Homo sapiens: one gene and its partner. The protein of the gene in region 1 interacts with the protein of each later gene in a biochemical or structural test. Each region holds a gene or a part of one and is shown in the gene's direction. Other genes may lie near its edges.

Evidence for each region.
Region 2: the proteins of DLG5 (region 1) and NRXN3 interact in a test that uses a peptide from one of them, tested with the Homo sapiens proteins (one large-scale study listed by IntAct).

The regions. Positions count from the first base shown.
Region 1 is NC_000010.11:77,790,756-77,794,255, reverse strand, and holds the end of DLG5 (disks large homolog 5), read left to right. Parts: intron 1-138; coding exon 139-248; intron 249-1,712; coding exon 1,713-1,816; 3' UTR 1,817-3,465; downstream 3,466-3,500. UniProt on the Homo sapiens protein: Acts as a regulator of the Hippo signaling pathway.
Region 2 is NC_000014.9:79,863,873-79,867,372, forward strand, and holds part of NRXN3 (neurexin 3), read left to right. Parts: 3' UTR 1-3,500. UniProt on the Homo sapiens protein: Neuronal cell surface protein that may be involved in cell recognition and cell adhesion. May mediate intracellular signaling. Functions as part of a trans-synaptic complex by binding to cerebellins and postsynaptic GRID1.

The DNA.
Region 1 (3,500 bases):
CTTTATGTGGGGAGCACATGGGGCCTCCCTCCACAGCCTACCCCTGCCTTGATGGGGCCCCTGTTAGCCTGGACAGAGGAAGGAAAGAGGGCCTGGAGGAGGCTCAGTGCTCAGCCTGGTGTCTGGCTGTCCCCACAGGGAGCAGAGAGACCCCATCTACCTGAGGGACAAGGTGACTCAGAGGCATTCCAAAGAGCAGTTTGAGGCGGCGCAGAAGCTTGAGCAGGAGTACAGCAGGTACTTCACAGGTAGGTGTGCGTGGGCCTGGAGTGGGGAGCAGGCAGCAGGGAAGGAAGCAGAGGCTTCCTAAGGCTGTTTTCTTAGCCGTGGAGAAGCCCGCACTTTCTACATGCTCCCAAGTGCTGTCATGAGCACGTTCCTGACAAGTCAGGTGTTCAGATTGCAGTCCCTGGCCAACGTCAGGATTCTTACAGGTTGAATGTTAAGCTCACCGATCTTGGCCTCAGGTCCTGCCTGGCTTGCCTGCTCATTTTCACACGTGCAGTGGTGGGTCTGTCTCATAGCACAGGTGCAGTTTAGTGCAGCCACAGTGTCCCCAGGCAGGGCGGGGACTGGAGCAGCCCCCAGTGTGCCAGCAGTGTGGGCAGCGGAGGCTAGGGGCCCATCTGTCCCTAGCACCCTCCAGGGCAGTCCCGTTTTGCAGCGGGATTTGGCAAACCCCCCTCCAAAAAAAAAAAAACAAAAAACAAAACAAAAAAAAACAATGCTGTCCCCTTACCATCTCTGGTCTTCAAAGTGAAACAAACTCAGTGAAGTTTGGTTCTATTTTACCTTCTGGCCTTCAGCCTCTTTGGGAAAGTCTGTCATTTGCAGGGCATTAGCATTTGCAGTCACAGAGGATGGGACAGGGATTCTAACTGCATTGTGGAGAGTGTTATGATCTAGTCCAGGGACCTGGGCTTGGTGCCCATGTGTGTGTAGGTATGTGCAGGTGTGCATGCCTCTGTGTGTGTGTGTGTGTGGGTGTGTGTGTGAACTTTCATTTCCAATTCCTCACAGACTGGTATTTAGCCAAATACACTGACAATTCCTAGAGAGATGAAAATTTAAAACTCTAAGTCTTGCAAAAGGTAAGCTCTATTTTTTTCTTGTTAGATTCAACAGACATAAAATTACGACGTCCTGTTTCCATAGCAGTTTCTAGACACTCACTGTCAATTTCTGAGCATGCCTTGTTGCAGTAGGGGCTTGGTTTGTGTCCAGGTGCTGTTATGTGGAGCACACTGGAGTACCCCTGGCCTGGTGTCTATAGACCCCTTTGTCAAACTCCTATAGTACAGGGCTGGCCCAAGTTGGCGCCATCATCTTTCTGTGACTCTCCTCTTGGCCATGAGCTATCTGGCTCCTTAAACTTGTCGTTTCCTGCAGAATCCTGCTAATGATTAGACCACCGCCACATGTCCTCCAAACTTCCTTCTGATGCCCTGGGATTCCCCCAACCATTGCAAACCCAACCCAGGGTGTTAACTGCAGTGGGGTGGGCAGTTTACATATGAGTGATCAACTCAAGAGGGGCAATTTTCTTTCCCAGTTTCTTGCTGGTGAAGGAGAGTCAGGTGGGGATGGAGCAGAGTGCCAAGGAGCACAAAGCAGACAGCCACACAGTAGAAAGAGTGCAAGCTGTACTGCCTTGCCTCAAACCTGGGGTCTTACTCTGAGCTGAATGACGTGTCTGGGGGGCTCTTTTGCAGGGGTCATCCAGGGAGGAGCCCTGTCAAGCATTTGCACTCAGATCTTGGCAATGGTCAATCAAGAACAAAATAAAGTCCTGTGGATTCCAGCCTGCCCGCTCTAGGAGAATGCTGTGCTGTGGATGACTGCAGCTGGCCGCCTGAGGGGACACCAGACTCAGCTCTTTTCTAGCGACTGAAAGTAGAAGTCTGTCCGTCTATGAACATGCGGGGGAAGGATCCGGAACCAGGACCCAGAAGCACCTCCTTTGTAGACAGAGGGCCACGGCTGCGTGCGATCCAGGCCCAGGCCCACACACTCTGCCCGTGTCACACGTGTGCTTTAACACAAAACAGATAACACTAAAGACGGGTTCAGCACCCACCTTTCTTTAGCCAGCTGATCAGAGATGCTGCAAAGAGAACCTTTCGGATCACTCGTTTACAAGCCTTTTCTAAGTATTTGGTGGTTTATGTTTACTTGAACGGCTCCATGTTGCCGGTGCCCAGCCCCTGTCCCCTCTGTCAACCCCCTGTCGCTTTGGTGTTGGTTTCGTTCCCGTCTTCAGCAAAACGACCTTGGAACCTCAATGGGGGCTGCTTTGCTTTGGGAGGTTCTTGTTGGTGGGACCAGAGCTTTGACAAACCTCCTGCTCCTTGGTGGCACCTCTCCTGGAAGGACGTCACAACTCCAGGTGCTCAGACTGCCTGTGGCAGCAGAACCAGTGCCTTTGGCATTTTCCTCCCACAATGGGGAAGGTGACTTTGGCATTCTTACAAACTCGTCTCTCGGCCTTTCTCTCCTGCCTTCCACAGCCTCTCGTTTCTCCTCCATCTGTGCTTATTACTTGAGGACTGTGTCTGCTCCGTGAGAGCTGCGTGGGCAGGGCTGCAGTGGGGTCCAGGTGGTGTTCAGCTGTGCTGATGCCTGCCATTGGGTCCTCCTTAGGCTCTGTAAGTCGTGACAGCCTTCATCAGTGCAATGTTTGCAGGGTAATTCTTAAACTTTTTAGAGGGTGGCAGGTACATCAGTTCTTTTTGATATGAAAACATTCATGTTTCAGACATTGAATTGAGAGCTTTTAGGGGAAGCATAATGGTTATTGTCACTATCAACAGTCTAAAAAGAAAAACTGAGGTCTTTTTAATCTTGATTACAGCACTCACGGCATGCACCCTACTCAGTGTGGGTGTCTTCGTTTGGGGGCTTTTTTTTTTTTTGCACTTCTGAGGCTAGATATGTCTGGCTGAAGATTTGATGTGGTTCCTCCTTAAGCTATGCGTCCTGTTAATAATAGGTACTGTACTGGGCTCTGTGTAAGTGTCGTTGGGGTAGGACCTATATTTTAATACTGTTCCTAACATTTCATTTTACTAGCGAGAAATCTTTGATTTCATTTTATTCTTTGTAATTCTAGACACTAGATTGTAGTTTAGCCATAACTGATGTTTTTTAAAAAGGGATATATTTTCTTGCACAGTTGTTCAAAAAAGAGACAAGTTTCAGTCCTCAATGCTGTCCTTTGTTTTACAGGTACAAGTTTTCTAGCTCAGACAAACTATGAAAAACTGTAGACTATTCTCAAGGTATTAACTCGCAGACCCTCTGGGGGTAGGGGCTGTTTTCTAAGTTACAGGCAGAGTGGGACTGAGATGGTACAGTGTGCACAGACAGGTACTGAGCTGACAGACTGGGATTTTCTGTACTAAAATGTTACTTTGTATCAAAAGTTAAACAGGCTTTAGTACAACAAATAAAGGTCAATTTCTGTAAGGCTGTGTTTGAAGATGTGAGTTTTTAATCTCTTC
Region 2 (3,500 bases), on another chromosome or scaffold:
TGAATATTTGACTTTGAAAAAATATCTTAACGACATGGGGCAAAAAGTGCAATCTAAATGGTAGCCTTTACTAATGTGTGTGGAAAGAGGTGTTCCTCATTATCTAATATTTCAATGTGTTAAGAGTTTAATTTTTTTGTTATCATTAAAAAAGACAGGATTATAAAGAGATATCAAAGCACGATTTTAGATAACCTAAACGGCCCAGCCTATACGAAGTTGATTATATCTCGATGTCTGTAAAAGATTGCTGTTCTTGGAGTCTTGAGGTCTTGTGAATTGATTTCCTGCTTTCTTTCATTTTTTTCAATTTAAGTAATAATACATTTGTTATATTCCTTTCAGTGTAAGTTTCTATTTGGACAATTTTATGGGAACATGTGCATTCTCTATGTGAGCTTCTATCATATTCCTGTTTTATTAGCAGAACCTAAAGGAATTTATTTAATGATGTTGTGACATTACTGCTTTTTCTTTTTTCTTTTCTTAGTTCATATTTGCATTTTCGTTCAAGGATATGCTTAGCAATAAAATGTTCTTCCCAAAACCTTGTATGCTGATGCACTTTTATTTTCTTAACATTTGAGAAAATCTCGCACTGAAGCTAATTATGTCATATCTTATTAAAAGCCGAGTAAGAGCTAGACCACTTTCATGTGATAGAAGATATTCTAAGCAGTTACTAATTATTACATTATCAAAATGCCATATTTATGAGATAATTATCTGTTACTTGAGGCATTATTTTTTAGATTGCTATGATAGAATAACCAGGAGGGAGTGCATTTTTCTGGAAAGATGATAGAAACATTGTATTCTAGAAAAGATTATTGGATACTATGGTTTTGTTTGTTTGTTTTTGTTTTTTGTTTTTCGTTTTTTGTTTGTTTTTTTTTTGAGACAGAGTCTCGCTCTGTCGCCCGGGCTGGAGTGCAGTGGCACGATCTCGGCTCACTGCAAGCTCCGCCTCCCGGGTTCACACCATTCTCCTGCCTCAGCCCCCCGAGTAGGTGGGACTACAGGTGCCCGCCACCACGCCCGGCTAATTTTTTGTATTTTTCGTAGAGACGGGGTTTCACCGTGTTAGCCGGGATGGTCTCGATCTCCTGACCTCGTAATCCACCCGCCTCGGCCTCCCAAAGTGCTGGGATTACAGGCGTGAGCCACCGCGCCCGGCTTGGATACTATGTTTTTTAAAGGCATTTCGTACCTTTTACGTATTTTCTATAAGTCAACAAGCTTTAAACAGTATTTAAAACTATGTTCACATAGTGCCATAAGCACTAGAAAGTCTTAGATGTCTTCTTTCCAAGCCTCCCACCATATTAAAATTTAAAATTAAAAAACAGAATCCAAAACCAAAATTTAAATGAGTTCTTCAATTTTAACAGCTTCTTACAAGAATTTCTGATTACAACTTGTTTCATACACCCATTGTAGCAGTAATGTCTCATATTTCTCGTTCTCTCAGCACACACTTACTTGGCCAATTGGATAATCCATCTACCCTTTGTTCTTCACTGTAATCTAGAAATATAGATTTAACTGAACAGCTGTCCTTTATCCATATGTTGGTTACCAGTTTTCAAAGAGTTAGAATTTTAAAAATATATATTTAGTTAAGCCTGTGCCTTCAAGATAACATTAGTGGAGTGGTTATACTATCGACTATGTTAGGAATGGGGGGGAGAAAGTCAGGTTCAGTGATGTCAAATTATGTAAAGTTTTTTTTTTGTTCCTGTCTTCAAAGTTCTGTATTAGATGTTCTCCCATCATTTTTTGAGATGGAGTCTTGCAGCCTACAGTGCAGTGGCATGATATTGGCTCACTGCAACCTCTGCCTCTCAACCTCAAACGATTCTCCTGCCTCAGCCTCCTGAGTAGCTGCGACTACAGGCATGGGCCACCACACCCAGCTCATTTTTTAATTTATTTTTTATTTTTTTAGTAAGGAAGGGTTTCACCATGTTGGCAAGGCTGGTCTCGAACTCCTTACTTCAAGTGATCCACCCACCTTGGCCTTGCAAAATGCTGGGATTATAGGTGTGAGCCACTCCTCCTGAAATCTTTCTAAATCTCACTAATATATAATTCTAGGACTACTTTAAGCATTCACTTTTTCTTTAATTCAAGAAACATTTATTGAACACTTATGTACAAGCTAGTCTACTATTGGCTATTGTTACTTTGTTTCAATGAAGGCAGAAAATGGCTAGAAGGATTTTAAGCCTTTTTGTCTCTTGTATAAATCTATACAGGTCCAGTCTCTCTTTGCTCATATTCAAATTGAAGTTTGATCTTTCTCCAAAAAATATCCAAGCCCTGTGTTTGTCCCAGTTGAACTAATATCTTGATTATATAGTTTAAGATCAGTTTGATAATGTCTATTGAATATTTACTAAATGATTATGGGATATTAAATTGAGAGCCTTGGGAGCTTATCATCTAGTAAAGATGAACAAAAAATGGTACTATAGTGAATGCAAATAAGCTATCAAAAAGTACAAACTAAGTTGGGAGCTTAGAAGAAATTATGTAAGGGAAGGCTTCATAGAAGGGGTGACATTTTGGTAAACCTTGGAAAACTGATAGGCAGAAATAAGGGCTGTATATCATTCTAAGCAAACCCTTAAAGTGGGAGCAAGCAGGATCAAAACCATAATTTGGATTGATGACAGACTGCAAAAAGTACATTGGAGGAAGATATGAGTAGGAAGGTTTTTGAAATCATGTCAATGAATGGGAAGAGAGAAATGGGAGAATAGCTTGAGAAGTTCAAGGTCAAGGGCTGCTTTGTCGAGTACAAAGGACTCGAGCATATTTGAAATGAAAGGTAATAACTGATCTACTCTTATGGAGCAACCGAGTTTCCTGATAGAGATGTTTATCTGGGGGAAAAAGGCATAAGTCAATCTTCTTGGAGAGAATGGGATCAGAAACTGACATATTGCTACAGAGGTTACAAAAGCTGTAGTCAGAGGGCTTCAGTGTTCTGGATATATTAAAGGACAAGGTCAGATACCCAAGTGGGACCGTGAGTGATTAATGGCAGCAGTCCACTGACAGCACCAGTAGGAAGGCGCTAATGAAAAGATCTCTAAATATCAGTAAGGGGTTAGCTGCCATTAATAATACAACTTTATAGCTTTACTATTTTTTCTTTTATTGTTGAAATAGTGAGGGCACGTATTTTTCTAATTGTGTTTATTACAAAGAAAACAGACCCGAAGAACTTAAATGACTTCTCCAAGGTCACACAGCTAATACATGACAATGTCATGACTTAAAATCCAGTCTTGTGGTTCCAAATTTAGAGCTCTTTCATAAACCTGTCTCTAGAGAAGCAAGTCATTTTCTACTTTTTCCAGAAGCATTTGAAGTGGAAGCTAAGGCAGGAAATGAGAGGATATTGTGTTAGTCTACTGGGATTACCCTGGCAAAATACCACAGGCTGGGTAGACAACTGAAATGTATTTCTCAGTTCCAGAAACAAAGTTGCA